Regions from separate parts of the Homo sapiens genome. Here region 1 is linked to region 2. Evidence: fine-mapped QTL for protein levels in blood plasma. A gene starts in region 2. The other region holds a variant in brackets. All regions are shown on one strand. Distances are between the middles of the regions. Region 1 has its middle 110 kb from the start of LINC00626. Region 2 holds the start of DPT (dermatopontin).

Region 1 (15,968 bases), 160 kb before region 2:
GTTCAAACTTTTTATAGAATAGATGAAATGATAGGTACTTCATTGATAATCTTTTCACATAATCCTGTTTATCCCATAAGTGGAAATACTTCTCAAGAGTGAAATAGCCAAATGGAGGAAAAGGTCTTGGATAGTAGCACATTTTAATGTCTTGTTTAAAATTGTCATTCCAAATTATGATAGTTTGTTTCCAAAGATGGCCACCATCAGTGTCTTGTTTCCCTGCACATATGCACAATTGCCAAATCAAGAGGTGAAGTCTAATTTCCCTCCCCTGTTATCTGGACATCTGGACTGATCTTCAGTTTTTGTTTGACCAATACAATCAAGCAGAAATGATATTACAGCACTCCCAAGCCTAGGTCATAAGAAACCTTGCACCTTTCCCCTGGGCCACATGGAACATTCCTCTTGGGATGCTCTTGAAACACTTCAGTCATACTGTGAGAAATTCAAGTCACATCCAAAGACCACATATAGAAGCTTCAGGAGACAGTCTCAGCAGAACTTCCAATCAATAACTGGCCATATGGTATAGCTATCTTGACCATAAAACTCATTTGGGCCTTCAAATGGTTCCAACCCCAGCCACCATCTGTTAGCACCTACTTGGGAGACTCTGAGCAAGAACGACTCAGCTCAACCCAGTTAACCTAACAGAACTTTAAGAGATAATAATAAATTGCTCTTTTGAGCCACTAAATTTTAGGATGGCTTATAACAACAATAAATAACTGAAACAGAAATACAAATATTTTGAATAATCTACCTGTTCTTTCTTTTTTCAACTCTTTGGATAGTCTCTTTTAACCAGGTACTATGCTAGGTGCTGGTGATGGATTCAAAGATGAAAGAGATATAAGATGTAAAGCCTGATGTATTTTCACAAGGAACATTTACTTGGTGAGACAGACAAATGAGTAGAAGAATATTATGCCATATGATAAGTAATATAAAAATGCACATGGTTCTTGAGGGATCACGTAGCTTTGGGAAAACTAATTGACTTTTTTTTTTTGGAAGGTTATTAATAAATAAAACTAAAAACTAAGCAGGAGACACAGAGACTCACCTGAGCAGCAGCACGGGGCAAAGATGGCATGTGGAACTTTCTTGGAATTGCAAATATTTCAGTCTGGCTGGGGCATAGAATATGAAGACTAAGTGGAGAGATATAATTGGGAAAGTTGACAAAGAGCTCAAAAATGTCTTTGTATACTGTCAAACGAGTTTGGATTTTATTATTCAATGTTAAAATTCTAGCCATTTTCATCCATTCATCTTTTATTTTACCTTACAATCCTTCAATAACTAAAAAATAATCATACTCCTCCAATGGCTATGTTGAAGGATCTTGAGGACAGGAAGAGAGTCACATTGTCTGATTTATGATTCAGGATGATGGAATCTTCTGACAAGATTTTTATTTTTTAGATCTTAAAATGCATTCTTTTCAGTGAAGCCATCTTTGGAGTTAGTCATTACTCTCACCTTATCTGTCATCTTGACTCCAATATGCTATTCCTCTTCTTTTGGTCTAGACTCTAATTTTAAAGCTATCTTCAAGTTAAGGAAAGGTCATTTTTCCACAGTTCAGTTCTCTGAAAAGCTTACATCTCCCAGTGAAAGTCACAGTCCAGGAGTGAAGCAATCACATGCTAGAACTTTAGGGCCAATTGGGAAGTCTTTACAAACACTTGCCTTGGTCGATCTTACTTATTGCTACAAGCCTGAAAATGCATAGTCCTAAAAAAGGTGGTCTCTCTGTGCACACATGTAATTTTTAAAAAGGAGAGGGCAATACGAAGGGAACTGAGGCTTGATCACCAAAAATCAGCACAATGAAAGCAAATGATAATGAATAATGAGCACTAGAATTCAAATTACCAGATGTTTTAAAGAGATGGAGTGCCAGTTTTCAATTCCATTTTGAGCACCACATTACAAAAGAACTATTTTAAAAATAAAAAAATGATTGAGGGAAAAGAAAAACAAATAAAAGAATACCTAAACTACTGAATGACCTCATTTGCTCATGATAAACTTCAATCACATCTTCTTACTCCATTCCCAGTTCTTTTATAGTATGAGTAGCAGCAATTCTCTGATCTTCAAAGACAAATCTGAGTGAATTCATTGGAACTCCCTGCCTTTGACAGTATGATTCTTTGAGTTTCTTGAGATGTGTTGTCATTTTCACTTTGAAGTGAATCTCGCTGCTATCCTGTCCAATGACTTTGAGTTTAACATATTCTCATTCCTTCTTATCCTCCAAGTCATCAGTTGAAGGTTTTGCCTCCTGATCTTACATAGGTGACAGGGGCTTCACCCAGGGGTCACTGCTATGCAGTGTTTCTAAAGGCATGAGGGAAGGGGCAGGGTGCAGTCAAGAAGCCTCTATGCGGTAGGTGAGAGCTGTGGCATCCAAGAATAATGGAGAGGGTGGTAGGTAGGTGGCTTCTAAAAAATGGTAAGGATCTGTAAGAGCTACTGTAGAGTAATAGGATTGGGCTGACTTGAGTCTCAGAGAAGGACTGCTGCATAGCTACATGGTCAAGCTAAAGTTTAAAAGAATGACTTCATACTGTCAATAATCTGCATGGGTATGTTACCTTTTTTTCCTGGCACTCAGCAATTCAAGTATGGCAGTGAGAAGGTGAGTAGCTTGATTGATCCAAGGTTATGACTTTTCTGGGCAGGTGCAATGAACTCAAAAACTGGATGATAGTTAAGAATATTGACAAAAGAGTAGTGAGAGAGATAAGACACAGGGTCTAAGCAATTGACAGCGTCTAAGCAAATGACTTGGACAGCTCATTCACGTGAAAGAATGGGATTAAAAGTAAGAAAGCTGAAAGGATCAGGGGCTGTGGTTAGAGAGAGGTGTTGCACAGATTGGAGACTGAATGGGCTTTCCTTCTGGGCATGAGAGACACAGGGTGATGTAACACTTCTAGAGAAGAGATTATGAGCTATCCATGATAGTGATGACATCACTAGTCATCACCATCACTTGCAGTAGGAGGTCAGTAGAATCCATCTATGTCAACAGTGAAGAATGCTAGAGCTGTAGTACATGAGCCAACAGGAGCCTCAAAATAAGAGAGAAATACAGAAATGATGATAAGGAACAGGCTGATTAACTCTGAAGCATTGAGCAGGTAACGTCTGAGCTTAGCTTTTAAGGATCCATAGGAGTTCTTCAAGGAGATGAAAAAGGTGATAGAGGAGATTTCAGATAAAGTCAGTATCACCTGCCAAAGTTTACAGGCATTTAAATTGTTTTCTACCACAATATCCTCAGGAGGTATAAACCATAAATACATGTTCTACTTTCTATTTTTCCTCTTTTCCTCAGACCATGACCATTCTTGAAATGAACTTTCCCATAGAATTAAAATAATCCCATTTCTGGATACCTGAGTAAGTTTGACTTAAATCTTTTCTCAGTTTGCCAGTTGCATAGTCTGAACAATCCTGCTACCTGTGGTTCTTAAGGAAAAGTGGTCATAGGTAAAGTTGGTGCACCAGCCTAATATGATTCTACAGAACTCTTGTTTAACTTTGAACAAATGCCACTTTTATTACTTTACAAAAATTGATATCCTAGAATCCATGATTTCTTCATGGTCCATTTTCTTTTTCTATCCGTTTTTGGAAGCAGGGTGATTTTAGAAAGAGTATGTATGGCATTCAAGGCTAAACAGAGTTGGTGTTGAATTGTGCTAACAACACCTACAAGCTGTGTAACATTTGGCAACTCACTTGGCCTTTCTGAATTTCCGTTTTCTCTTTTGTGAAATACAGATAGCATGTCTATCTCCTAGAATTATGAGAATGAAATGCAATGTCAATAAGGGATGGTACAGAATAGATGCTCAATGTTTCCTCTTTGTGGTTCTCTCTGAATCTCCCTTGCTTCTCCCAACTCAAGCAAATTAGTTTTCCTGAGCTAATTTCTTTCAAGCATATGGCTGCTGACCTTTTATTTTTCTTAATCCATTGACCCCTCTATATTGTGTATCTGCCCCCTGCCACAGCATCACATAAATATATGATAATTCCCTGAAATTGTCCTGCTTTCTTAGAACTTGACTTCTGGCAGACTAACTCAGAAACATTCAAGAGAAAAAGATGAGGAAAAGGGAATCTCTTTTATACTGGATAGTTTTAATAACAGAATCCTGGAGACAAAGTCAGAAAGTGATCATGGGAACAGAAAATAAAGAGAAAAAATGCAAGAACATAGAGGAGACACCCTAACAATAAGACTACGAGCAGGAAAGTGTCCTCCCATGCTTTGCTGAAGCTGAGTGATATCTGGTTAAAGTTTCCTTGGGCTCTTACTACCTTTCTGAAACTAAATGTTGTTTGAATAGGAGGAGCTAAATTTTTCATAAATAAATCTCTCTGATGGTTTGTTACATGTTCTTTATTTTTTTCTGTGTTAAAATGTAATCCGTATTTTAAAGTTTTCCCACTTGCCAGACTTATTTTACATTTTATCTCATATAGAGGTCTGCACCCAAGGAAAACTGAGATTCTCCCACCGGTTCTCCATGTAGACTTTCAGAACAGAGTAGCACACTGTATTTTGGTGAATGACACTCCCTGGGGTTGTGCAAGCATGCTTGCCCTGAGAATTACAGAGGCTGGGTTTTCAGGGACCCAGGACACTGAAATCCCTGGAACTGCCAAGCCTCAGTAGTTTCTTCACCTTTTCCTGTTAATGATCACACCACACTACCCAAGTTTCTATGAAACTATACAGCAATGATAGAAAGATAAGTTTGTAATATAGACAAGACCATCAAAAAAAGTAATTTACAAAAGGAGAAGTATAAATGGCCAATGAGCATATGAGAGGATGCTCTGCCTCTCTAGCAGTGAGAGCAATGCCACTTAAAACAGCAGGGATAAGCCATTTAGAGTGATTTGACATTGATAGCATAAAATAATAACCATTGTTGGTGTGAATGTGAGAGAAGCCTGGAAGAGATTATTCCTATTTTTATTTTCCAAATTTAATATATGATTATGATGTGAGCTATGTCTATTGCAGCAAGGGGCTAATAGAAAGTTGTCCAGAGAAGTGGCCAGGCACGGTGGCTCACACCTGTAATCCCAGCACTTTGGGAGGCTGAGGCGGGTGGATCACGAGGTCAGGAGATCGAGACCATCCTGGCTAACACGGTGAAACCCCATCTCTAATAAAAATGCAAAAAATTAGCCGGACGTGGTGGTGGGTGCCTGTAGTCCCAGCTACTCAGGAGGCTGAGGCAGGAGAATGGCGTGAACCTGAGAGGCAGAGCTTGCAATGAGCCGAGATCGCGCCACTGCACTCCACCCTGGGTGACAGAGCAAGACTCTGTCTCAGAAAAAAAAAAAAAAAAAAGAAAGAAAAGAAAGTTGTCCAGGGAAATATAAAGAAGAAAGAAATCATCCATGGTCACCTTGCTCAGTGAAAACCTCCATTGCCATTTACAATTGATTTATTTGAATCAGGATCCAGTTGAGATCTAATCATGGCATTTGGGATGTCTTTTAAGTCTCTTTTAATTTAGAACAGATTCCCCCCGCCCACACACACTCCTTTTTTTTCTGGTCCTTGACTTCTGGAAGAAACTGAGTTAGCTGTCCTACAAATTGGTTCAAATTCTGGATTTGTCTATTTGCTCTCCAACTGGTCTGCAAACTAAAAGTTAGACGTAAGTCTGGATTCAACTCAAGTTTAACATTTTTTGGCAAGAAAAGTTTGTAAGTGATGTTGTGTATTTTTTATTGCATTACATCATGTAGCACATAATGTCTGGTTGTCTCATTTTGAAACCGCTTACATTGATCAATGGCTTCAGATGAGACAGCCTGATTCTTCCGTTGTAAAAGTCCCTATCATCTCTTCTCTTAATGGTTTTAGCATCTGTTAATGTTTATTGCCTGAATCAATTATTTCATTAGTGTTGTTAAATGGGGATTTTCTAATTTCACTAATTCTTCTACATTTAATAACTATAATTCTTCTCTAAGGAAAAAGATGTTCCTCATCAACTAGGGATTTTTTTTATTTTGAAATGTAGTAAAACAGGACAACCAAAATGAGTATTCCCTAATTTTGTCCACTCAAATTCTTAGAAATAATGACAAACCAGTGGCAAGAAATATCCATACGTGTTCAGATTATGGTTTCTAAGTAACATTAACACTAAAAGGGACCAGAGATTCATGGAGAAGGGCTGAGTCCAAGTCCAGGGTGAAATAAGTAAGATGAACCTGATGATAAACCTTGCGGTGGCAATAAAGAATCTCTCAAAGATAACAGGGCTGTGTCAAAAAGATCTCCCAGGAACTAGTTTGAAAGAACTTCTGCCGGTGCAAGATGGGACAATCTTTACATCAAAAACAATAGTGACTGAAATTGACTATCTCATATTGAATATATTTTAAGCCTATTAGTTCATAATAACACAGACAAAAAATAAAAACTGCTAGAGAACCACAAAACCACCAGCCAAAACAAAAACACAACAAATACCATTTCAGAAAAGTAGGGCACCAACCCCTTGCTCTGAAAACTGGTAAATTACAGGGAAAGGATGATTTATGTTTCTAAATGATCATCATGGCTGCTGTGTGAGGAGTATGTTGTAGGAAAACAAGAGTAGAAACAGGGAGGCTTGGGCCAGGCTCCAGGGACTGTGTAAATTGCCAGGGATACATGGATGATGAGCTAGCCCCTGACCTCCTGGAGCTCTCATCTCCAGTGGGGAAGGCTGCCTTGTCACCAGGCAGTTGGAATCAAGCGGGAAGTATATAATAACAGAGGCAAGCAGACGGTGCCACTGCAGCACACGAGAATGGCATCAAGCCATCCTGGGAGCTCTAATACAGAGGAGTACATACCCAAGCTGAGTCTTACATTGAGTCAGAAATAAAAGATGATCATATCCCAGACCAACTCCAGAACCAGTTGGAGCCTGCTGGAACTAAGGCAGCTGTAGTCAGTACTGACTCAGGACCTGGATAGGATTAAGCTGGCAGGAGGAAGGGAACATTAAGTCCAGCAGAGAAGGGACTAGGGAAGATGGGCTGAAAATTGATCCAACATAGCCACAGGGAGGATAGGGCTGAGATTTCTTTTGTACTACCTTCATCTCTCTGTTTATCTGATCATTGCTTGTAACGGTGAAAGATGCTAAATGGGGGAGATGAGAGGAGAGCTATGAGGAAAAGTAGGGAGGCAGACATCAACGAAGCACAAATCACAGCTGTTCTACATGGAAGATGAATCATGCTATGTTGCTGAGCTGCATCATAGGAAAAGAGGTGCCGTGTCTATGCTGTGTTGTGCTATGTTAAAATTTTAATCACTAGAGATGATATAAACACTGAGGAATCAAAAACACACTGAGAGATCACTGGCCAGACAGAAGTAACACATGGAGACAGACTCAAGCTGTAGAATAACATGAGATGATGTCAGAGTAGACCCTTACATGACCCAGGGAATCTGCAAATATCCCAGATCCTTGGGATATTTGGATGGATGAAATGGACCCTGCACAAAGGAGGGTGAATAATATGGACTACCTATGCACAGAAATACAGAGAAGAGTTACAAGCCAATGCTGAGCTGAAGTGTAAAGTTTCAGAAGAGAGTTTAAACAAATATTTAAAACAATGATAATATTCAGTTGTGGCAGGAGTGCAGTAAAATTGCTGTTTCGATGTACTACTAGTGAGAGCTGAATCAGTACAATCTTCCTGGAAAAAAATTAACGGTATGTTTAAATATTCTTAAAATGTTCTTATACTTTTTCCTAATAATTTTATCTTTGAAAATAAAAGAAAGGCCGGGTGCGGTGGTTCACGCCTGTATTCCCAGCACTTTGGGAGGCCGAGGTGGGTGGATCACAAGGTCAGGAGATCGAGACCATCCTGGCTAACACGGTGAAACCCCGTCTCTACTAAAAACACAAAAAATTAGCTGGGCGTGGTAGCGGGCACCTGTAGTCCCAGCTACTTGGGAGGCTGAGGCAGGAGAATGGCATGAACCTGGGAGGTAGAGCTTGCAGTGAGCCGAGATCATGCCACTGCACTCCAGCCTAGGCGACAGTGCAAGACTCCGTCTCACACACACACACACACACACACACACATACACACACACA[A/CACACACACAA]AAGAAAACATAAGAAAAAAGCCCCCAAAATATACAAGAATATGTATACAAAGTATTATCAGAGTATTAGTTTAGAGGAAAATAGAAAACAATCTAAATTCCTACCAGTAAGGAATGATTAATTAAGGGTGGCATATGTATAATTGGAATATTATGCAGGAATTAAATGATTACAGAGATTTTAGTAATATGGGGAATGTTTATTATTTGAGATTAAGTTAGAAAGTAGAAAATAAATTGTAAAAATTTTTTAGTTTTTAAAACCATAGAAAAACTATAAAGTAGAAATACAGCAAAATTATCTGTAATCAAATTATGTTATTTTTAGAAGCTTTATCGGGAGATAATTTACATACAACAAAATTCACTAATTTAAATGTCTAATTTGATGACTTTTGACAACTGTTTATACCTGTGTAACCACCACCACAATTAAAATAAAGAATATTTTGATCAACCCCAAAATTTCTATGCTTTTTTGTATTCCCTTCCTCTGACTCCCTGACCCCTAATAACCACTATCTGCTTTCTGGTGCTATAGTTTTGCTTTTTCTAACATTTCATGTAAACAGATTCTTATAGTGTGTAGGTTTCTATGCTAGTGTCTAGCATAATGGTTTTGAGATTCGTCCATGTTGTTGGATGTATCAATAGTTTGTTCCTTTGTGTTGCTGAATAGTATTCCATTGTATAGATATACTACAATTTGGTTTTCCATTCACTAGTTGTTGGGCATTTGGGTTGTTTCAATTTGCTTACTATGATAAATAAAGCTTCTATGACCATTAGTGTACAAGTCTTTGTGTGCTCATTTTCATTTCTCTTGGGTAAATATGTAGGAATGGAATTATTAGATTATTTGGTAAGGGTTAACTTTATAAGAAACTGCCAAAATTATTTTCAAAGTATAATAGATGTATAATAGATGTACCTGTTGTAATGTATGAGACAGTTCCAGTTATTCCACATTATAATTTTGAGGATTCCTTTTAGATTTGATTTCTAGTTTTATTCTGCTGTGGTCTGAGAAGATACTTGATATGATTTCAATTTTTAAAAATTTATTGAGACGTGTTTTGTGGCCTGTCATATGGTTTATCTTGGAGAATGTTCCATGTGCTTATCAGTAGAATGTATATTCTGCAGTTCTTGGGTAGAATGTTCTGTAAATATCTGTTAAGTCCATTTGTTCTAGCATGCCTTTTAAGTCCATAGTTTCTTTCTTGACTTTCTTTTTCAAAGATCTGTCTAGTACTGTCAGTGGTGTATTGAAGTCTCCCACTACTATTGTGTTGCTGTCTATCTCATTTCTGAGGTCTAGTCGTAATTGTTTTATGAATCTGGGATCTACAGTGTTAGGAATATATAAATTTAGGAATGTAATATCTTCTGTTGGATTGATCCTTTTATCATTATATAGTTTACCATTAACCCTTTGAAGTCTGTTTTTTGTTTTCCTAATATAAGAATAGCTATTCCTGCTCACTTTTGCTTTCCATTTGCATGGAATATCTTTTTACACCCTTTTACCTTGAGTTTATATGAATTCTTACATGTTAGGTGAGCCTGTTGAAGACAGCAAATATTTGGTTTGTGATTTTTAAAAATCCTTTCTGCCATTCTGTATCTTTTAAGTGTAGCATTTAGGCCATTTACATTCAATGGAAATATTGAGATGTGAGTTACTGTTCTCTTTATCATGTTGTTACCTAAGTTTGATTTTTTTCATTGTGTTATTGTTTATAGCCCTTGTGAGTTTTAAGCTTTCAAGAGGTTCTATTTTGGTGCATATTTGGCTTTTATTTCAAGGTTTAGAACTCCTTCTAGCATTTATTGTAGGGCTGGTCTGGTGGTGGCAAATTCCCTCAGCATTTGTTTGTCTGAAAATGATTTATTTCACCTTCATTTATGAAACAGATTTGCTGGATACAAAGTTCTTAGCTAACAGTTGTTCTGTTTAAAGGGGTTGAAGTTAGAACCCCAATCTTCTCTGGCCTGTAAGGTTTCTGCCGAGAAGTCCGCTATTAGTCTGAAAGGTTTTCCTTTGTGGGTTACCTGATACTTTTGTTTTAGTGCACTTAGAATTCTTTTTATCATGTTGACTTTAGATAGCCTGATGACTACAGGCCTTGGTGAAGATCTTTTTGCAATGAATTTCCCAGGAGTTCTTTGATCCTCTTGGATTTGGATATTTAGATCTCTAGCCAGACCAGGGAATTTTTCTTCAATTATTCCCTGAAATATGTTTCCCAGACTTACTGTGTTCTCCTCTTCCTTAGGAACAACAATTATTCTTAGGTTTGACCATTCTACATAATCCCATATTTCTTGAAGACTTCGTTCATTTCTTTTGATTATCTTTTCTTTATTTTTGTCTGATTAGGTTAATTCAAAAGCCTTGTCTTTGAGCTCTGAAATTCTTTCTTCTACTTGTTGTAGTCTATTGTTAAAACTTTCCACAGCATTGTGTAATTCCCTAAGTATGTCTTTCATTTCCAGAAGTTCTGATTGGTTTTTCTTTAAAATATCTGTCTTTCTAGAAAATTTTTCATTCATATCCTGAAATGCTTTCTAAATTTCTTTATGATGGTTTTCACCTTTCCCTGAAATCCCCTTGAGTAGCTTAATAATTGACTGTCTGAATTCCTTATCTGGTATTTCAAAGATTTCATCTTGGTTTGGATCTATTGCTGAAGAGCTAGTGTTATCTTTAGAGGTGTTATAGAATCCTGTTTTGTCATATTACCAGAGTTTCTTCTCATTTGGGTAGCCTATTTCTTCTCATTATTCTTGAATTTATGTTTTATGTAACTGTGTTTCTTCATTTGTTTGTTAATTTCTTTTTTCCCCTTAAGGATGTGACTTTAATGCTTATAGTTAATTATATTTGGTTCTTGATGCTTTCAGGGGTGAAGACTCTGTAAGAGTTCCTTGATAATACAGAGTCTTTGTATAGTGGCTTTCTCATATGCTGGTTGTAGTAGCAATGTGCTCAGTATGTGAGCAAGTTCACTGTCTCCTTTGGGGTTGGAATGGTAGAGGTCTCTCGAAGCTTATCATATAACCATGTGGTGTGCACCTTTTTATTTATTTATTTATTTTTCCCCAGTATTTTATTTACTGGTTTGATGGTTTAGGCTTCAGGCCAGTAGGGGAGATGTCTCTGGTTAGCAACCAGTTGTGGCTAAAGCAGGTGGGCAAATGCAATACCCAATGGTAGACAGATGTCCAAGCCTTGACAGAGGGGGCTGGAGGAGCTCTCAGTGAGTCACACTGAGGTCTTAACAGGGGGAAGGGTTGGAGCCACCTCAGGTCCCCTGACAGGTTAGCAAGAGAGTTATCTAACTCTTAGACACACCCCTGTCTCAGTGCTGTAGCTATTCAGATCACACAGGTGCCTCTTTTCATCTGTAGGAGTGTTGATATTCCAAGTAAAGAGGAAATGTGACTCTGTCTCTCTTGTAAGCCTGAACCTGGAGGGTGTTCCTTCTGCAGGAATACAGTCACTTCAACGTGTTTGAGAAAGGCTGTCTATAGTTGCACCCATGCCAAGTTCCCATAGAAGAAGCCCCAACTGTGCGTGCAATAGTGAACAAGGGGGGAAAGATGTCCCCTTCTCCAATACCCTTTACACACACCAGGGCTGTCTGACTGTTGGGTTAGAACTGAAGATGCTCCCTGCTGAGCCCAGCACTGCAACTCTGCCTCTGCTGAAAGAAACTTCCCACCAGTGGAAAGATCTGCTGCTCAAGGCCTGCCATACAGATTACTTTGTCTCACAGGGTATTCCCTTGCTGTGGTACACTCCCTCTTCCCCTAAGAGTGGGAGTACCTGGGAGACAGACTATTGTGAGTGTTGTTGCTCCTCTGGGTCTAGCCACCCAGTAAGGTTGCCACACTCCAGGCAGGAGCTGGAAAATGTCTGCAAGGGATCAAGTGATATGACCTCAAGTCTCCCAGCAGTGGGTAGCAGCACCAGCTCTAATGGGAGTGGCAGGGGAATGATGTATACTCTGTGAGATTCCTTGGTTATTGTTAGCCTTAGTGTATTGGCTTTCTCGAATGCCAGTTAAAGTAGTAATGAAGTAGTCATATAGACAGACTCAGGACCTCCTGGTTAGCCAGAGTGGTGCAGGCAGTGGTGATAGCTCAGATCATGCAGCTGTTTTCTCCTTCCTGGGTGCAGTGTTATTCTCTCAGGAGATGCTGTAATGGACTGCATTGGTTGGTCTCCAGCTAGGAGGTGGTGCTTGCAAAAGAGCATCAGCTGCAGTGGTAGCAGTGGGATTTTTGCTTGCCTTATTTTGCCTGGGAAGTGGAGGATACTCTGGTTTCTCAGGCAATGAAAGAAGCCATATAGCTCCCAAAAGATTCTATCTTTTGTATTAAGTTACCAGGGCAGGTTGTGGGGCAAAGCCAGGTGGGGGCTGAGTCAGGTAGGTTTGTACTGTGAGTCTCATGCAGGGTAAGCAGCAGCCCTTGTGGGTATCAGAAGACAGGAGCAGTTCTCAGGCCACTGGGTTGATATTCCAGAGGGTAGTATTGCTGCCTCTGCTGCACAGAAGAGTTAGCACAGGGAGAGGGGAGTAGCAGGTGATGGTAAGCCCCACACAGATCCCACACACTTGGCGAGGCATAACCACTCGTGCAGTGTTCCACTGGCAGCGGTGGGCTCAGTTCCAGGTGGCCTGCATTCAGAACTCACAACTGCTCCAAAGCATATGCTTTCCCTCTGGAGATGGCAACTGTGGCTTTCAGTCCATGCCCCTCCCTATCCACTGCGAAGCTGGGCACCCAGCTTCTGCACTTGTGGTTCCTGGACTAGCAGCTGGAGCACAATTTTCACTCCCCTGCCCCAGCCCTGGCTAAGGGAGTTCATCCTTACCCAAGATTATATCGTGAAACCCAGTTGGGGGCTTATTTCAACCTGAGACCCCTGCCTGAACTATTTGGCTGTGCTCTGCAGGGTCCTCTGTGAGGAACAGTGAAAAATGCTTTCCCTCCGTCTGCACTGGAAACTGGGAGTGCATGCAAGGGTCTTCCTGTGCTGCTCCTACTTTTATATTCCATGTGCCTCCCCAGGTTGGTTCCTGTACTGGGTAGGGTTAAGGCCTTCCCCTGGGACCTAGACTTCCAGGGTCCCTGGAGGGGCTGTGTGTCCCAGGGGCAGTCTCTCCTCTCACCCTAGGGACTCATAGCCCTTTACCTGACTCACTGTGTAGGCTGCAGCCTGTTGCTTTCTTCAAAGGGTCTACAGATTCCTTTGGTTACCCTGTTCAGTTTCTGCATCACTTCCTGAAAAAAGTTCACAGTGTGAATCTCTACACACGACTTTGTCCTTCCAAGTGGGAGAGGTATGCTGGCAATGCCTCTAATCCACCATCTTGGACAAACAAAAAAGAAAGAATTGACATTATTTCTTCAATAAATGTTTGAAAGAATTCAACTGTGAAATCATCTGGGCCTGGGGTATTGCGTGGGGAAGAATTTTTAATTATAAGTTCAATTTCCTTCAAATATAGACAAAAAACTATTCAGGTTATCTTTTAGTTTTTGAATGACTTGGGTAGTTTGCTTCTTTTAAAAAAACTTTCCAGTTTTCAAAGGGAATGCTTCCAGTTTTTGCCCATTCAGTATGATATTGGCTGTGGGTTTGTCATAAATAGCTCTAATTATTTTGAGATACATCCCATCAATACCTAATTTATTGAAAGTTTTTAGCATGAAGCCTTCTTGAATTTTGTCAAAGGCCTTTTCTGCATCTATGGAGATAATCATGTGGTTTTTGTCATTGGTTCTGTTTATATGCTGGATTACGTTTATTGATTTGCGTATGTTGAACTAGCCTTGCATCCCAGGAATGAAGCCCACTTGATCATGGTGGATAAGCTTTTTGATGTGCTGCTGGATTCAGTTTGCCAGTATTTTATTGAGGATTTTTGCATCAATGTTCTTCAGGGATATTGGTCTAAAATTCTCTTTTTTTGTTGTGTCTCTGCCAGGCTTTAGTATAAGGATAATGCTGGCCTCATAAAATGAGTTAGGGAGGATTCCCTCTTTTTCTATTGATTGGAATAGTTTCAGAAGGAATGGTACTAGCTCCTCCTTGTACCTCTGGTAGAATTCGGCTGTGAATCCATCTGGTCCTAGACTTTTTTTGGTTGGTAAGCTATTAATTATTGCCTCAATTTCACACAAGGCAGGGATGCCCTCTCTCACCACTCCTATTCAACATAGTGTTGGAAGTTCTGGCCAGGGCAATCAGGCAGGAGAAGGAAATAAAGGGCATTCAGTTAGGAAAAGAGGAAGTCAAATTGTCCCTGTTTGCAGATGACATGATTGTATATCTAGAAAACCCCATTGTCTCAGCCCAAAATCTCCTTAAGCTGATAGGCAACTTCAGCAAAGTCTCAGGATACAAAATCAATGTACAAAAATCACAAGCATTCTTATACACCAATAACAGACAAACAGAGACCCAAATCATGAGTGAACTCCCATTCACAATTGCTTCAAAGAGAATAAAATACCTAGGAATCCAACTTACAAGGGATGTGAAGGACCTCTTCAAGGAGAACTACAAACCACTGTTCAATGAAATAAAAGAGGATACAAACAAATGGAAGAACATTCCATGCTCATGGGTAGGAAGAATCAATATTGTGAAAATAGCCATACTGCCCAAGGTAATTTATAGATTCAATGCCATCCCCATCAAGCTACCAATGACTTTCTTCACAGAATTGAAAAAACTACTTTAAAGTTCATATGGAACCAAAGAAGAGCCCACATTGCCCAGTCAATCCTAAGCCAAAAGAACAAAGCTGGAGGCATCACGCTACGTAACTTCAAACTATACTACAAAGCTACAGTAACCAAAGCAGCATGGTACTGGTACCAAAACAGAGATATAGACCAATGGAACAGAACAGAACTCTCAGAAATCATGCCGCATATCTACAACTATCTGATCTTTGACAAATCTGACAAAAACAAGAAATGGGGAAAGGATTCCCTATTTAATAAATGGTGCTGGGAAAACTGGCTAGCCATATATAGAAAACTGAAACTGGATCCCTTCCTTACACCTTATACAAAAATTAATTCAAGATGGATTAAAAACTTAAATGTTAGACCTAAAACCATAAAAACCCTAGAAGAAAACCTAGGCATTACCATTCAGGACATAGGCATGGGAAGGACTTCATGTCTAAAACATCAATAGCAATGGCAGCAAAAGCCAAAATTGACAAATAGGATCTAATTAAACTAAAGAGCTTCTGCACAGCAAAAGAAACTACCATTAGAGTGAACAGGCAACCTACAGAATGGGAGAAAAGTTTTGCCATCTACTCATCTGACAAAGGGCTAATATCCAGAATCTACAAAGAACTCAAACAAATTTACAAGAAGAAAGCAAACAATCCCATCAAAAAGTGGGCAAAGGATATGAACAGACACTTCTCAAAAGAAGACATTTATGCAGCCAACATACACATGAAAAAATGCTCATCAGCACTGGCCATCAGAGACATGCAAATCAAAACTACAATGAGATACCATCTCACACCAGTTAGAATGGCGATCATTAAAAAGTCAGGAAACAACAGGTGCTGGAGAGGATGTGGAGAAATAGGAACACTTTTACACTGTTGGTGGGACTGTAAACTAGTTTAACCATTGTGGAAGTCAGTGTGGTGATTCCTCGGGGATCTAGAACTAGAAATACTATTTGACCCAGCCATCCCATTACTGGGTATATGCCCAAAGGATTATAAAACATGCTGCTATAAAGACACA
Region 2 (15,968 bases):
AAGTGCTCTAGAATTGGCCACCTTGCTTCCCTAAAGGATGTGTCACCAAATCCCTCAATGCCGTGTCCTCCAAGAGAACTGGCAGGGCTCAAACTAGGGAACTTTGGCTTATGCCCAAGCCCTGTCACCCAATATTTCTGTAACTTTGGACATCACTGTACCTCTCAAAGCCTCTATTTCCAAACTGATAAAATGGAAATAAGAAAGCCAACTTTACTACCATCACCAATGCAAAGATGAACTGAGATCTGTTAAATCCCTGCACATGGAAAAGAATAAATATTTATTGAGTGCTGGATTGTGTGGTTTATATACATCGTGCCAAATGCTACACAAATGAAAGGGGCTGTTATTTATTTTATAAACTTTAGGTTTACCCACTTAAAAACCCAATTTCAAATTAGAAAATTTGGCTTAAAATGACATCACTTAAGCACTTTCTGATTAAATTGTTTTCTTTCTTTTCCCCCGTTTGTAACCAAATCTCTCCAATGAACCTCCTCCCGCGCTTTTTTTTAACCATGGTCTCTAGCGAGTCATGAGCTCAGAGGTTGTAACCAGTATCCTGAACTCTGTTCCTCCACTTATGAGCATATAATACATTTACTAAAGCAATATTTCCAGCACCTACACATACATCTCTGTGCTTCATTCATCCTCACAGACCCCAGAACACTAATTAGGCACTTGGGCCCTGAAGCTTCCTTCTGTGAGTGTCTCAGAGCTAACTTGGCTTAGCAGCACCCCATCCCCATCCCCATCCCTACTCTCACCCCAAGACACAGTCCTGGTTCCCAAGCTCGCAAGTTCCCAAGCTTCTTCTCCACCACGATAGCTCCTCCATCTGCCTACTGTTCCCAAGCCTCCTGAATTCTCTACCCTCACTCTGCCTTTAGTGCTCAGCCCTGTTATCCTGACACCTCTCCCTGCAAACTCACTCTCAGGAACCTCTGCGATTGACATTCATCCACATATTAATGGAACTCCAGAGAGTGGTGGAGCCATATTCCCCCAGCTTTACTCATTCCCAAACCCCTCCAGTCATCATCTGCACAAGAACACTCTTCTGCCCTGCGGAGTCCTGGGGCTGTTCATTACACTAATATGCATGATTGTTCCCTCAACTCCAGCTTCTAGTGTTACCCTGAGGTCAGACTAACAACGTACATTTGTTTCAAGCTTTACACTTGACAAAGTCTTTGCAAGACCACTATTTGATATGACTGTCACAATAATCTCGTGGTAAGTGGCTGGTGTTGTGATTATCCTCCATTTTACAGATGATAAAACAAAGGTTATGGGTTTTGTCTGATTCAGTGGTTCTCAACCAGAGATGATTTTTCCCTCCAGGAGACATTTAGCAATGTCTGGAACATTTTTGATTGTCACAGTGGTGGAAGAGAAGATGCTACTGGCATCTAGTGGATAGAGGCCAGGGATGCTGTCCAACATCCTATAATACACAGGGCAGCCAGCCTCCACAACAAAAAACTATCTGACCCAAATCAAAAGGTCATTTTGATTACTTGCAGAACCAGAACTTTAACTTAGATATTTGGATTTTAGGAGTCTCTGCTCTTCTCACAACCATCTGCCACTGCTCTGAGGCCCTGCTGTGACCATTTGGCACTTGGGGTAGTATAGTTACTAACAAATTCAAGTCACCTTTCTGTACTAGCTGTGAAAATTGGGGTGAGCTACCAGTGATCTCTGAACCTAATTTTCTTAGAACTGCTGGAAGGTCAATTGGTCTATCATATGTAAAGCACATAGTACAGTATTTAGCACACAGTAGGTGCACCTTATTCTACTCCTCCCAATCTTCTCTATTTCCTCAACTTGGATTGTCACTCTTTCTCCTGCTGCTTCCAGTATGAGCATTTTTAACCTTATTGGTGGCCCTCGGGGCTAACCCCAAATGATATGACAGTGGGTTCCACAAATGATCTTAAAAAGCAATGGGTCATGCAAGGGTGGCAAGTTTGCTGAAGGTGAGGACAGCCTGGGTGTACTGAGGCTATTGAATGCCTCTCTCAGCTAAACCGTGAAACTGGCACAGACTCATTTTGGAGGAAAGCCACGGATGGCTCAGCATACACTTGCTGGGAAGTTTGTGATAGTACTCTGGCCACCTAGAGCTGCAGCCAAGTCCTGATTATACACAGGAGTTAAAAGGGAAAAAAGACAGCAGGCAAAATGGAATCCTCCAATAACTCACAGTCAATATTTTGGGTTAAGCATCCATTCATCTGGGGCTACCAGCTTCACCCAGGCACTAGCATGAGCCTTGCCTTCTCCTGTCTGAGCAGCCCTCCTCGGGGCCAGCACGTCACATCTGGAATTCTCCAGTGGATCAGGTCTGCTCCAGGGTGACCTCTGTAAGTCTACATCATTCCCTCCCAATATACAATAGCAGCTACCCCAATCCAGAAAGTGTAAAAGTAACTTAGGAATGAGTTGATTCTAGGGCCATTCTAGGTGCTCTCAATTAAAATCGGGCAAAGTATTATATTCAGAATCTCTCAAAAAGGGATTATATGTTTGAGAAAGCTGCCAGACAGGAGTGGATCCAGGTCGCAAAAAGTGTCACCAGAGTGGCTATGAGTTCCTACACCTTTCAGAAGAACCCAGACTTAATAAGCGTTGGTGAGGATGTGGAGAAGAAATTGGAGCTCTCATACGCTGCTGGTAAGAATGTAAAATGGCACGATTGCTTTGGAAAACAGTTTGGCAGGTCATTAAAAGATTAAACACAAAATTACCGTATAACCCAGCAATTCCACTCCTGAGTATATACCTGAGAGAAATGAAAACATATGTCCACACATATACTTCTACATACATGTTTGTAGCAACACTGTTCATAATAGCCAAAAAGTGGAAACAACTCAAATGTCCATCAACTTGTAAATGGATAAATAATATATGGTAGATGTATACTGTAGAGTATTATCTGGCATTATAAAGAAATGAACTAGTGATACATGCTGCAAAATGGATGAACCTTATGAACCGCTAACATAAAACCTATGCTAAATGAAAGAACCTATTCATGAAAGACCACATATTGAATGATTCTATTCATACGAAATATCCAGAACAGACAAATCCATAGAGACACAAAGTAGATTGATTGTTGCCTAGGGCTAAAGGATGAAGGGAAATGGAGAGCGACTACTGATGTGTTCAGGGTTTCTTGGGTGGTTAAAATATTCTAAAATTGCTTGCGGTGGTGGTTGCATAAACTCTGTGAACATACTAATTTAAGGGATATATTGAATTATATACCTTAAGTGGTGAATTGTATGGTATGTTAATTATATCTCAATACAGCCGAAGAAGGAGGAGGATAAGGAGAGAGAAAAGAAGAATAAGAGGTAGAAGAAAAAGAAGAATCATGGAGACTTTTGAATGCTCTTTGTCAGAATCTCCAAAATATCTCAAGTCCATTATCTACTAGGAGGTAAGATAGCCCAGTGGTGAATTGTGTGGGCGCCAGAATCAAAATTAGTGAACTGAGTTATCTAGGCTTCAGTATCACTACATAACTTCTCGAGAAGTGACACCTGGAATTTGGGTAGAGTGTTCTGCATTATCTGCTATACGGTAATTCTCACTTTAGTGAGTATCAAGTTACCTAAAGGGCTTGTTCAAACACACATTGCCGGGCTCTACTCCTACAGTGTCTGATTCAGTAGGTCTGAGAGGGGCCGGAGGATTTGCATTTCTAACAAGTTCCCAGGTGACGCTGATGCTGTTGGTTTTAGAGCAACACCCCAAAAACTACTTATTGAACATTTAGTTCTTTAAAGTCCCCAGGGTCTATTGAGTAGACTTTTCAAATAACAGCAGAAATGCGTAGCGCAAATTAGTTATATGTGTATGTTAATATACATACTTTATAAGTGCATTATTTGACAATTATTCATAAATGTTATAATTAGTAACTGTAACTTTGATGAAATGATGGAAGGCATTGCAGAATGGGAATCAGAAGACATGGGGTCATATCCTTCCAGTTCTAGAAATTTGGCCCAAAATGTTCTCTCACCACAGTTTCCCCATCTGTGAGAAACTAATTCCAATAATGCCTCACTAACATATAAAGTTATGAGGAAGATAACATAGTAACCTAGTTGAAAACACATGGTCAACTGTAAATGCATTAATCTTATGTTCTCAATGTCTGCGTATGGAAATCATTCTCTATGCGGCCACCAGAATCTCTCTCAAAGGCATCAGCAGTTTCTGGAATCTCCTGAGACACTGGATGAGTTAGGTTGCTTTCAGCTTTAAGTAACAGAAATCTATATTAAAACTGGACCATAGCATGAAGATATTTATTTTTGCACATTAAAGGGAATCCAGCTGAGGTAGTTCTAGCTGTAGTTGAAAGAAATCTGCGGAGAGTGGAGATCAGGCAGAGGCCCTGGAAATTGTTGGAAAACAAATGTATAATAAAGATGAGTGTTTATGATAATCTGCTTTGTCTCTTAGAGCTCTTTAAGGTTTAAAATAGCTCATATCATGTCCAGAATGCAAGATACAACTCATGAGCATCAGGATGATAAACTGAAAAAATTAAAAAAAAAAAAAAACCCTCTAGCATAGAGGTTCTCAACCCTGGCTTCCGGTGAGAAGCCTATAGGGAAGGTTTCAAAGGACGTCATTGTCAGGACCCTGCTCAGAAGCTTCTGATCTGATTGGTCCAGAAATTGCTTAGACTCTGGAGGTTTCCAAAAGCTTTCCAGGTAATCCTTAAATGCTGATAAGGTGGAGAATGATTGCTTCAGCATATCATGAATCAGAGAGATCCTTCTAAGCTAGGAAGAATTCCGATGCCAGCACTGGGCAGTTACTTACGGATGGAAGTGGTGGGAGAAGATGGTGCTAAAAACAAAACTAAGCCTCACATAGCTGTTCAGCCCAGATCCTCTCCCCCTCGCTTCAGTAACCATGATCATCAAAGAAAACTGCATGCCCAACACACACACAAACACACACACACACACACACACACACGAGTTACTTGTTGCTTTATTCTCATGTATGACTGTCTTTCCCTTTCAAGACTATCTTGGTGTTTGATCTAGACTGAATACCGTCTGGTAAATGTGCCACAGGCTAGGCAGATGGTGGGATTAATAGTGTGATTTTTCTCTGGCTCCACATTCCTTTAGGAAGGTGACTCTTAGCAATTGATGTGAATAAGAATCACCTGGAAAATTTTTTAAAATATAAATACCTGAGCACCCCTTGTGAGGTTATGATTTAGCAGGCCTGGAGAAGAGCCACTGTCTACATTTTAACAAACTTCACAGAGGCTGTAGATAGAATTGGTCTATGATCACAATTCTAAGAAACTTTAAGAACAATACTGATGAGAAATGGGAAATACTATGTGCTTAAGAGATGCCCAAAGGTTTCAAAAAATTTGAAAAGCCAAATCATCAACGGATGCATGGAATGGGTAATGAGCACATGAAAAGATGCTCAAAATCATGGATCATTAGAGAAATGAAAATCACAACCACACTGAAATATCACTACAAACCTATTTGAATAGCTAAAATTTTTTAATGGCAATTTTCTGGTAGTGGTGGGCAATGGTATCACCACTTTGGAAATCAGCTAGGTAGTTTCTTGCTTTCTTTTTTTTGTTTTTTTGAGACGGAGTCTCGCTCTGTAGCCCAGGCTGGAGTGCAGTGGCACAATCTCGGCTCACTGCAAGCTCCGCTTCTCGGGTTCACGCCATTCTCCTGTCTCAGCCTCCCGAGTAGCTGGGACTACAGGCGCCCGCCACTAAGCCTGGCTAATTTTTTGTATTTTTAGTAGAGGCGGGGTTTCACCATGTTAGCCAGGATGGTCTCGATCTCCTGACCTCGTGATCCGCCCGCCTCGGCCTCCTAAAGTGCTGGGATTACAAGCATGAGCCACCACACCCGGCCTCAGTAGTTTCTTTTAAAGTTAAACATACATTACCTTGTGAACCAGCAATCTCACTCCTAGGTATTGACCCAAATGAAATAAAAATTTGTTCACACAAAAACCTATACATAGATGTTTATATCAACTTTATAATTACATTTATGTAATTCATTATATAAAATATAATGAATATAAAATTCATTACATAAAAAGTAATGAATTTTCAAAAACTGGAAACAACCCAAATGTCTTTCAACTAGTAAATGTATAAACAATCTGTGGTACATCCATGCTATGGAATATTACTCAACAATAACAAGAAACAAAATACTAACACATACAATGAGATGTTGAATTTTAAAATGGATGAACCTTAAAAGCATTATGCTAAGTGAAAGATGGACATGAAAGGCTACGTGTGGTATGATTCCATTTACTTGACATTCTGGAAAAGGCAAAACCATAGAGACAGAAAGTAAATCAGTGGTTACCAATGGCTGGGTGTTTGGGAAGATTTGACTGCAAAGGGATATAAGGGGATGTTTTGGATTGATGGAACTGTTCTAAGTCTTGATTAGGGTGCTGGCTATGTTACTGTACATTATGTATTTTAAAAGGTGAATTAATTATATGTAAATTATAACTCAATGAAAAGAAAATTCAATGTGAGGGCAAAAATACTGAAGGATAAATAGGGGGTTTATTTAGATTAAACCCATTACATTTTGAGAGCAGAGCACACTTTCTAGACTTGACTGGGTCCAATTTCAGCAGCATGGTAGAATGCTTAAGTGTAGAAATCATATCCAACTTATCTCCCCATGGGCCCATAGTACTTCCTTATGCAACTTATGAGTTCTCAGAGTAGCCCTGCAAACTGGTATACCCGCGCTTATACTCAAGGGTTAAAAAGTGTTGGATTGACAACTTAAAAAAAAAAACAGGCATTCAGCCTTACAGAAATCCTAGATGGCTCTGTTACTTCAGTCTATGATTTCGGTATTTTGAAATCACTGTCTGGGTATTTGTGTGGCCCGGAAGGCTAGTTTGGAGAACAAATACAGGGGTTTGCTAGTAGCGGGTAGGGTAGGACAGAAAGGGGTGAGGTGCTGAAAGGTGAGGGACAAATATGCTACTAATCAGTGTTTTTCAAGTGAATATTTCTACAGGGTAGAGCAGCAGTTGGCTTTTATAATCTAGATACAAAGTTGTTCTTTCTCCAGGGAGCTTCTTAGACTTACATGCTGCTGGTATATTCCTAGAATTCCACCTTAAAACAAGCTGAATGTCCTTATGGCTGACATCTCAGCATGGAAAAGTTTTGCTTAAGCAATGACACACTGCAGTTGGATCCTTCTCACCCACATCTGGAAGCCACATGTCAGCGGCAGCTATATAAAACGGTCAGACCAGCAATCTTAGAGTGACATTGTTTGCCAAAATCCCAGGCAGCATGGACCTCAGTCTTCTCTGGGTACTTCTGCCCCTAGTCACCATGGCCTGGGGCCAGTATGGCGATTATGGATACCCATACCAGCAGTATCATGACTACAGCGATGATGGGTGGGTGAATTTGAACCGGCAAGGCTTCAGCTACCAGTGTCCCCAGGGGCAGGTGATAGTGGCCGTGAGGAGCATCTTCAGCAAGAAGGAAGGTTCTGACAGACAATGGAACTACGCCTGCATGCCCACGCCACAGAGCCTCGGGGAACCCACGGAGTGCTGGTGGGAGGAGATCAACAGGGCTGGCATGGAATGGTAAGGGCCAGTCCCTGCACTGCACTGGGGCTGGGAACATCTCTGCATATCCCTCCTCCTGGGGGCTGCTAGACTCTCAAGGAATATCAGTAACCAAAGCCTGGGCAAATCCCACCCCAAACCTCACCACTGCATGCTCTGGGTGGAGCAGGGCTGCTGCTGAGCGGACTACATGACAGGACAAAAACCTGGGATGGGGAGTGTCTGTGGGAGACAGACTCCTCTGTGGCTCTGTTCCTTCCAGAAGCTGTTCTACCTACTCTCAGTTTGGGCCAGGGGCTGGTGTAGGTCGGCGAGAAGCTTGCTTACCAGACTACCAAAAGATATGTACAGAAACTGAAAGTAATAAACTTTATAGAAATTAAAACTTTCTGTGCCATCGGAATGGCATTTTTCTTTTTTAGAAATTTATTTTTACCATTTTACAAAAGTACTGGCCCACAGTAGTTTGGGAACAAGAAAAATAAACAATTGATCTCTCAGCACGGAGGGTTTGAGAACTATTGATTTAGAGCAAGTGAATGGAAAAGAGGGGACAAGGACATTTAGGCAAAAGAAAGTGGAATTAAATAGCTGTCTACTGCCTTGATTAAATGTGCTCTCTCAATTATGAGTACTGAGGTCCTTCTCTCTGCCTGAATTTAAAGTGGGTTTTATTGCTGGAAAATAGTTTACTAAAGGGTTTTGGAGAGAGGTGCTGTCTTCCCCTGACTGCATTCTGCCTTAAGCAGTGGCATGGAATTTTTTCGAGCTTGTACTTTTTTGTGGGGTGTGATTGTCTCAGCTGGGTCTCAGCCCAGGTGCTTGGTCAGGAGCTCATCCTAGTAGGCACTGACTGCTAGGCTGATTATTTACAACAGCCTAGATGGAGCCAGCACTCTAGGAGGCTTGGAGGAGAGAACGGAGGAGGCAGTCCAGGGAGGAGGAAGCCCACCTGGAGGGCTGCTGCATGTGCTATCTGTAGAGCAACCCAGATGTGTGGCAACAAGTACTTAGTGTAGTGGGGATTGGAGGGGTCAAGCACAAAATCTGGCCAGGTGTGGTGGCTCACGCCTGTAATCCCAAACACTTTGGGAGGCTGGGGAGGGAGGATCACTTGAGATCAAGAGTTCGAGACCAGCCTAGGGAACACAGCCAGACCCTATCTCTACAGAAAAAAAAAAATTAGCCCGGTGTAGTTGCATGCAGCCTGTGGTCCCAGCTACTCAGGAGGCTAAGGTAGGAGGATCACTTGAGCCCAGGGAGTCGAGGCTGCAGTGAGCCATGCTCGCACCACTGTATTCCCTCCTGGGTGGCAGAGCAAGACTCTGCCTCAAAAAAAAAAAAAAAAGAAAATAGAAAAAAGAAAAAGCATAGAACCCTGGGGGACACAACCAGTAGAGAGGTGATGATGGGAAATCCAAGAGGAAGAAACACCGATGGGTGGGGGAGCCAGGAAAGAGAGCGGGCCTTTAAGTAATGACAACAGCTACCATTTATTGAGTGCTTACCCTGAGCAGGCTCCATGCTAAGTGCTTTATGTGGATCATCTCGTGTAATGCTCAAAACAAGGGTATATCCCATTTATAGGTAGACAAACTGCAGTCTAGAGATCCAGTATTTCCTCGGCTAGAAAGCTGGGGTTTGGATCCACAGAGTCTTTGCTTCAAAGAGTTTGTACTTTGCCACAGTGACGGGCTCCTGAGAGGCTGCTGCCTCCACCCAGAGTGGGCTCCCACCCGACAGCTGACTCTGTCAGCAGAGCCAGTGCCACAGGACCAGATTCAGGGCAGTTCTTCCTCCTGGAGAGGGTGGGGACCTGCAAGACCACAGCAGAAGCCCAGCCCCAGAGGGATGATCCCTACTTGGTTACCAGGACTGTGGAGGGGCTCAGCCGGACTGTAGAAGGGGTGGGGAGAGGACTCACACAGGCAGCAGCAGGTGAGGGTGCCGGGGCTGTGGAGGCTGCTTGGACAGCCTTTGTGGGCCATTCTCATCCACCCCCATGGCCTCTGGTGAGCAGATTTAGTTATTCAAAACCCCTTCTGACAGATGCTGATTCAGAGACCAGGCTCACCTTGATTGTTGTCTCCATGACTCCTCACAGCCAGGCCCACTGCCTAATGTGGAGCATGGCAATGACCTAATTACAACTGTCCCTCCAGTCCTCACCTCTCAGGAGCACTATCGCATGGGTGCGACTCCTTTCTAACAGCCGTTTTTTGTGCCACAGTCAAGCAGCACTCAGCCATGGTTCCCCAAGCCATAGAGGAAGAGCCCTAGGCTCTGAATCAGGAGGCCTGGGTCTGGATCCTGGTTCTAATGACTTGTGGTGTGACCTTGGCCCAGACGCTCAGCCCTCCAGTCTCCCGCCTCATTTGGAAAGTGAGCAGTCAGGCTGCATGATCTCTGAAGGCTCCACAGAGCTGTGGCTCACCCCTGAAAACACTCTTGGCTTTTTCTTGCATTCTGTTGATCTTTGTGTTCATCCCTGCTAGAGAGAGAAGCCAAATGATGTTTAGTTTTAAACTTGCCAACTGTGACTGGTTTGTCATGAACTCCCAAACTATTTGAAGAAAAGCAAAAGAGGAAGAAGGTGAAATAACATGATTTTATTTGGCCCATGGGAGTCAAGGGAAAAGCTGATAGGCGAGATACCTCTTCCACCTCCTCTTACTCGGCATTTTTGGGTGTGCAGTGTCTAGTAATTTTGGTTTCCTTTCCTCCTTCCACCCTCTGTTGCCTCCTTCTCCCCGTCTACTAATCACAGGGTTGAAAACTCACAAACATGCAAAACAACTTCTTTACAATAAGATCCAGCTGCCCCAGGACTGACACGAATTACCCTGGAAGCACTTTTAAAAATGATTATGCCTTTGAGTTCAGCCTCCAGTCTCAGTGAAAAATCTGTAAGGAAAGAAATTGCTTATGGGCTGGGGAGCTATTACATCTGACGTTGGCTACAGGCTTAGTCTGTTCTCAGGGAACAGTTGTTGATGGTTTTGTGCAGTTGGGCTGCCTTGTATAACCAAATTAGCTTTCAGGTTTATTTTAAAAGAGGGGAGGAGTCTCGAATATAGGCTTGACAATAGCACATAGGATCTGCTAAAAAGAAAATCTTTCTAATCAAAGTGCCATCTTTAAAAGGTGTTGCCATCATAGCTGAGTGGTCTGTGGTGCTGCCATTGATCACAGTTTCTCTGTTGAAAATCACCTCTTCAAGTGCCGGCTTCTGAAGTTTGGATGATGGTCTCTGGCACTAACAACTACCAGGAGGCCTTACCTGGGTCCCCATGAGTGGTATTTCACCATCCCAGGGCATGCCTAGGTTGTTCTCAGGGAATCTGCTCTAACTTGGGTCAGCACAGGCTGTAGGGCACTGGGTCCTGTGTGGAATAAGATGAAGGTGAAATTTTCTAGTGAGATTGAGCTACTGTGTAGCGGAAGGAGCCCTGGGCTTGGATGCAGGAAACCTGGATTCACAGCTCCTGCTTGTATCTGTGACATTCGGTATCTCATTCTGGCAAAAAAGAAAGAGAAGAAAGAAAGAAAGAGAGAGAGAGAAGGAAGGGAGGGAGGGAGGAAGGAAGGATTGAAGGAAGGAAGGAAAGAAGGAAGGAAGAAAGGAAGGGAAAGAGAAAGGAAAGGAAAGGAAAGGAAAGGAAAGGAAAGGAATGGAAAGGAAAGAAAAGCAAAGGAAGAAAAAGGAAGGTGTGACTCCCACCTCACAAGCTGCTACTTGTGTTACTGTGATACTTGTAGGATAAAGTATAAGAAAACTCTAAAGCAAATTGAAGTCTAAAACAAATGCCTAGCACATCATGGGCAGGTAGTAAAAGTTTAGTGAATCTGAAATTGATGTGGCTGATGTTGGGCAAGCCAGCTTTCCACGGAGTCTGAGTTCAGAGGAAAAGTGGTCCATTTATTGGTATCTACTTTTTACCCCGGGCTTCAAAGAATCTCAAGGAGAAGTTTTGGAGTGGCAGTTTGTGTTAGAGCTGAGTTTATGAATTCAATGACAAGCCACAGACTGGAGAAGAGGAGAAAGAATCTATGCAACAGGGCTATGGCAGCATCGAGGTGCATTTGAAGGTGGAGAGGTTGGGTGGGAACTCCGTTTTCCATGGTCGGACTATTTCCCTAATCTAAGCAAGACCAAGCCTCAGTGTAGTTCAGGGCAGTCGTCCTGAGTCATGGTTCTGAGTATTGAGTACTCACAGGGCCCACTTCCTCGGGGATGCTTTCCAAGACCACCTCCTCTCCCCACACATCTCGCTGTCTCCACTCCCTCAGCCTGCTTTGTTTCCTACAATGCCCTTGTCACTACCTGATTGGCATTTGTTTCTTGTTTTGTCTCCCTCACTAAAATATAAGCTTCATGAACACAGGGGCTTTGTCTCATTCACCACTGTATCCCCAGTGCCTAGACAAGTGCTGGTACATAACAGGCCCTCAATACATATGCAGTGAAAGACCAAATCAGCAGTCCAAACCCCAGCCAGTGTCCCCACGGCCCTCCGCAAGGAGGCCTGCAGGTTTTCCCACAGGGGAACCATTTTGCTTATGTCTTTGATTCCCAATATTCCAGTGTCTATAGTAGGGGTTCCAACTGTATTGTTCACATCTCATTTTGATTTATTGCATTTACCAACATGCAGGATGGTCTTTCAAGATTTCTTAAGGATCGCTAAAACATGCACAGAGGATGGCTGACACACTTTGCCGCCGCAGAATGAAGTTTTTATCAGGTTTTCATTCTCTCAATAATCTTAAGGTCTCGATCAATTTCAAAAATTGAAAGTAAACTCTTTATTTCAAAAGCCATAAGGGCTAAATGCTGCACAGTAACCTATCCTGGTTTGACATTTGTGGAAGAACTGATGAAATCAGTTTGGTGTTATACCAAGGTTAATTTCTTAGCATTTCTTAGCATTCCTAGACACTCTAGAGTTATGAAAATTAACATTAGAGGAACCTGGGTGAAGAGTATACATGAATTTTGTGTGCTGTCTTTACAAGCATTCTGTAAATCTGAAATTACTTCAAAATAAAATTTAAAAAAATAAATATAAGGATGCAGCACAAATATAGTACAACAGAATCGTGGAATTCCAGCACTGGAGGGGGTCTTGGGCACAATCTAGAGCAACCTCCTTACCTCACAGAATAGGAATAAAGGCCATGAGACTGAAGCAATTAAAAACTGAATAAAAACATTGCTGTCAGGTTAGGAACTGTCATCCTCTTTTTACAAAAGTAGATATAAATATCAGTAGAAGGGGAGAGATGGGTCATGGAGCAATTCTGTTTGGAATTAGGAGAGAAATCCATAACTTTACATAAGTATAGGTTCTATGGCCCTAACCCTGATCTACGTGGTGATTTATGATTTATAGAGTATTCCTCATTTATATGTTCATTTGTTTATTCATTCACTACCAAATGCTTATTAGCACAAACTTTCCCAGGCCCCAGGAAGATGGAGATGAATAACATACAGTCTATGCCCATGAGTTATTCAAAAGCTAATATTGTTTGATCTTCACAACAGTATTGGAATCCAGGTGTTTCACACATGAGGAGGTTGCCCTTGCATGGCTAGCAGATGGCAGACGGAGGACCTGAGCCAGCCAGCCTGATTCCACAGTGCTGTGGGTGATATGAAATGCTGATGTTATTTTTGTTCCTGGATAAAGCCATAGTGAGTGCTGACCTAAAAAAGATATCAAATCCACCTAAGGATGACTTCTGAGGGCAAGAAGGCTGAGTGTGGGAGAATAGGGTTATGACAGATCTAGGATTCTTGCCAACTTTCCATCTAGGTCACTCTCCTAAGTGCTAGGAATCAATTGTCTGGGGGAACTTGAGCTCTGCAAAAATGGTTGTTGGCTGCTCTTGTAAGGATGGCAAAAGCTCCCTCCTCCCAGGAGGGGATTTGCTTCTGTCTGGGAACCTGCAGGACACAATCTTCTCAATCAATAAGAGATTTCTGCAGAGTTAAGATATCGTGTGTGTGTGTGTGTGTGTGTGTGTGTGTGTGTTTCTTTGAGGGATCTTGAAGTATTGAAAAGTTAATGAAGTTTAGAGTCAGAACAATTCTCAAAATGCAGCCCCACTGACCCCACTACTACCTTTACTCAAGTCGTCTCAACTCCGAAATACTCAGCTTTCACAACTAAAACACACCTCCCTAGAACTGTTGTTGTGAGAATTAAATAAGATAATATATGTACATTAACTTGTGTCCTTAGGGGAATTACTTACCTTCTCTAAACCTAAGTTTCCTTATACGTAAAATGGTGATCGTGGTGAGAAGCTCATTATTTGAACCCATTTTATAGGATTGTTTTGATAATTAAAATAATTAATGCACGCATAGTGCTAAGCACAATGCCTGCACATTGCAAGTCCTTGATAAAGGTTATTTATTATTACTTTATCATGACTACTCTGTGTAAACTGAGACTCATGGAGACAAGTATCACACAGTTGGTAAATTACAAAGCTGGAGTTGAAAACCAAATTGCTAGATTACAGAGCCTCTGAAATATATCATTTTGCTTTTGGAACATATAATTTAATCACAGTCTATAAATATTATGTGTACATTATAAGTGTCTTGAATATTTATTACATTTTAATAGACACGGAGATAGCATTAGATCTCTTGTTTAAAAATATTATAATTGATATTCATAAACTCACGTCAAATTTACTGTGATGCTAATGTAGCTCATGCAATTCCTGTGTGACCTGGAATTGCTCTCAGGACATAAATGCATCTCACAAGATAATCTAGATCTTCTCAGAGGCCTTAGGGGAAGCCTCTCCTGCCTGTATTTTTCCAAAAAAACCTGAGGAATTTGTATTTTTGGAGGCATTCTCGCTCTGTCCTGTGCTAGGTCTTTCTATCCAGAGATGCTGTTCTGCAGGTCATTTCTGCTTCACTGTTAAAACCTTGTAGACAGACTAGCAGACTTAAAACCTGGACATGGAGAAGACAGCAGAATTCTTACCCAGATGCAGGCAGGAAGAGAGCAGAATGTGTGCAACTTAACACTATTTAAAGAGACTGTTCATATCCCCACCATGGTGGCAGGAGGATGAGCAGTAAACGGTGCAGTGTTCAAAAACTTTGCATTGTAGCCCCATGAGGCTACTCAGTGACAGTATGTGTTAGGTGAAATGTGTAATGGTGATATCAACATGTCACAAGGAAGGAAAGTTAGTATGATTTGGAATTGTCAAGAAAGGAAGGATCTTTGAAGGAGGAGAGGCTTGGTATTGCCTTTTGTGCTCTGATATGTGCTTTCTGAGGCTCCTCTCAGTGTCTAATTGGAGAAGTTCAATCCTGACAATTTCTAATGTAGGCTCCAATATTTACTGAAAGTGATGTTTCGTGACTAGGATGTAGCCTGTCTTTCTATCAGATTACAGGTACTTTTATCATCATGGTAGTAATAACTATGACTTCCCCTGCCTTTCAATTATATACGTTGTGCCAGGTTCTATGCTACACTTGATATATAGCATCTCTTTAGTTTTTGTGTAATACTGTCAGGTTAAGAACTGTCATCCTAGTTTTACAGAAGTAGGTATAAATATCAGCAGAAGGGGAGAGATGGGTCATGGAACAATTCTGTTTGGAATTAGCAGAGAAATCCAGAACTTTGAAGGCTTCTTTTACTGGGCAAACTTGCCCCCAACTGTGTTTGTCTCTGTCCCTTGCCACTTCACTGCTCCACTGTCCCCAACCACTCTCCTATTTCTCTGCTCCTCTGTCTTTGGTACCAGTCTACTTATTTCCAGTATCTGTATTATCATAGTGTCTGCTTATCAGTTACAGTGTCTGGTAATTCTGCCTGTCCAATGTCATAGTGTTTACTTATCAGTACCAGTCTTCTGAAGAGATTCCAGACCAAGTGCAGCATCAGGTATAGAGTAAGTTCTAGTGAATATTTGTCAAAAGACTTAATGAACATTCTAAAATTCTGTGGGCCTTTTTATAAATGCCTGATAGCAACTCAAAGAATTATTCTGGGGAAAATAGAATTAACAAAAATCAAAGCTTTACTCTAAAAGAAAGAAACTCTTTTGGTACTATTTAAGACCTCATCCACCTTTGGGGCGGGAAAGAAATTTGGGAGTGTTAAGGATGCTGTGCCACATGGAGTGAGCCACTTGTCTAGATCATGGGCAAAACTTCTCATAGTCCATCTCTGCAGTGGGGTTGGAAACTGGCTAACAGCCCTTGAAACACCTGTGTGTCTGTGAAGCTGGGAAAAAAAAGACCAGCACAACCA

The links. A credible set is the group of variants that fine-mapping cannot tell apart. PIP is the chance, under the fine-mapping model, that this variant and not a neighbour inherited with it causes the effect. Protein levels are from the aptamer-based SomaScan assay of Sun 2018.
Region 1: its variant is the best candidate, but not a certain one, in a credible set for the plasma level of the DPT protein (Sun 2018, PIP 0.89).

The regions. Positions count from the first base shown.
Region 1 is chr1:168,884,479-168,900,446 of GRCh38, reverse strand. It overlaps the pseudogene SUMO1P2. Among named protein-coding and RNA genes, the nearest start is that of LINC00626, 110 kb to the right of the region's middle. The variant A/CACACACACAA (reference allele first, on the strand shown) is at 8,169.
Region 2 is chr1:168,720,588-168,736,555 of GRCh38, reverse strand. It overlaps DPT (dermatopontin), which reads left to right and starts at 7,350. Exons shown (of 4, transcript NM_001937.5): 1 at 7,350-7,686. The coding sequence starts at 7,382.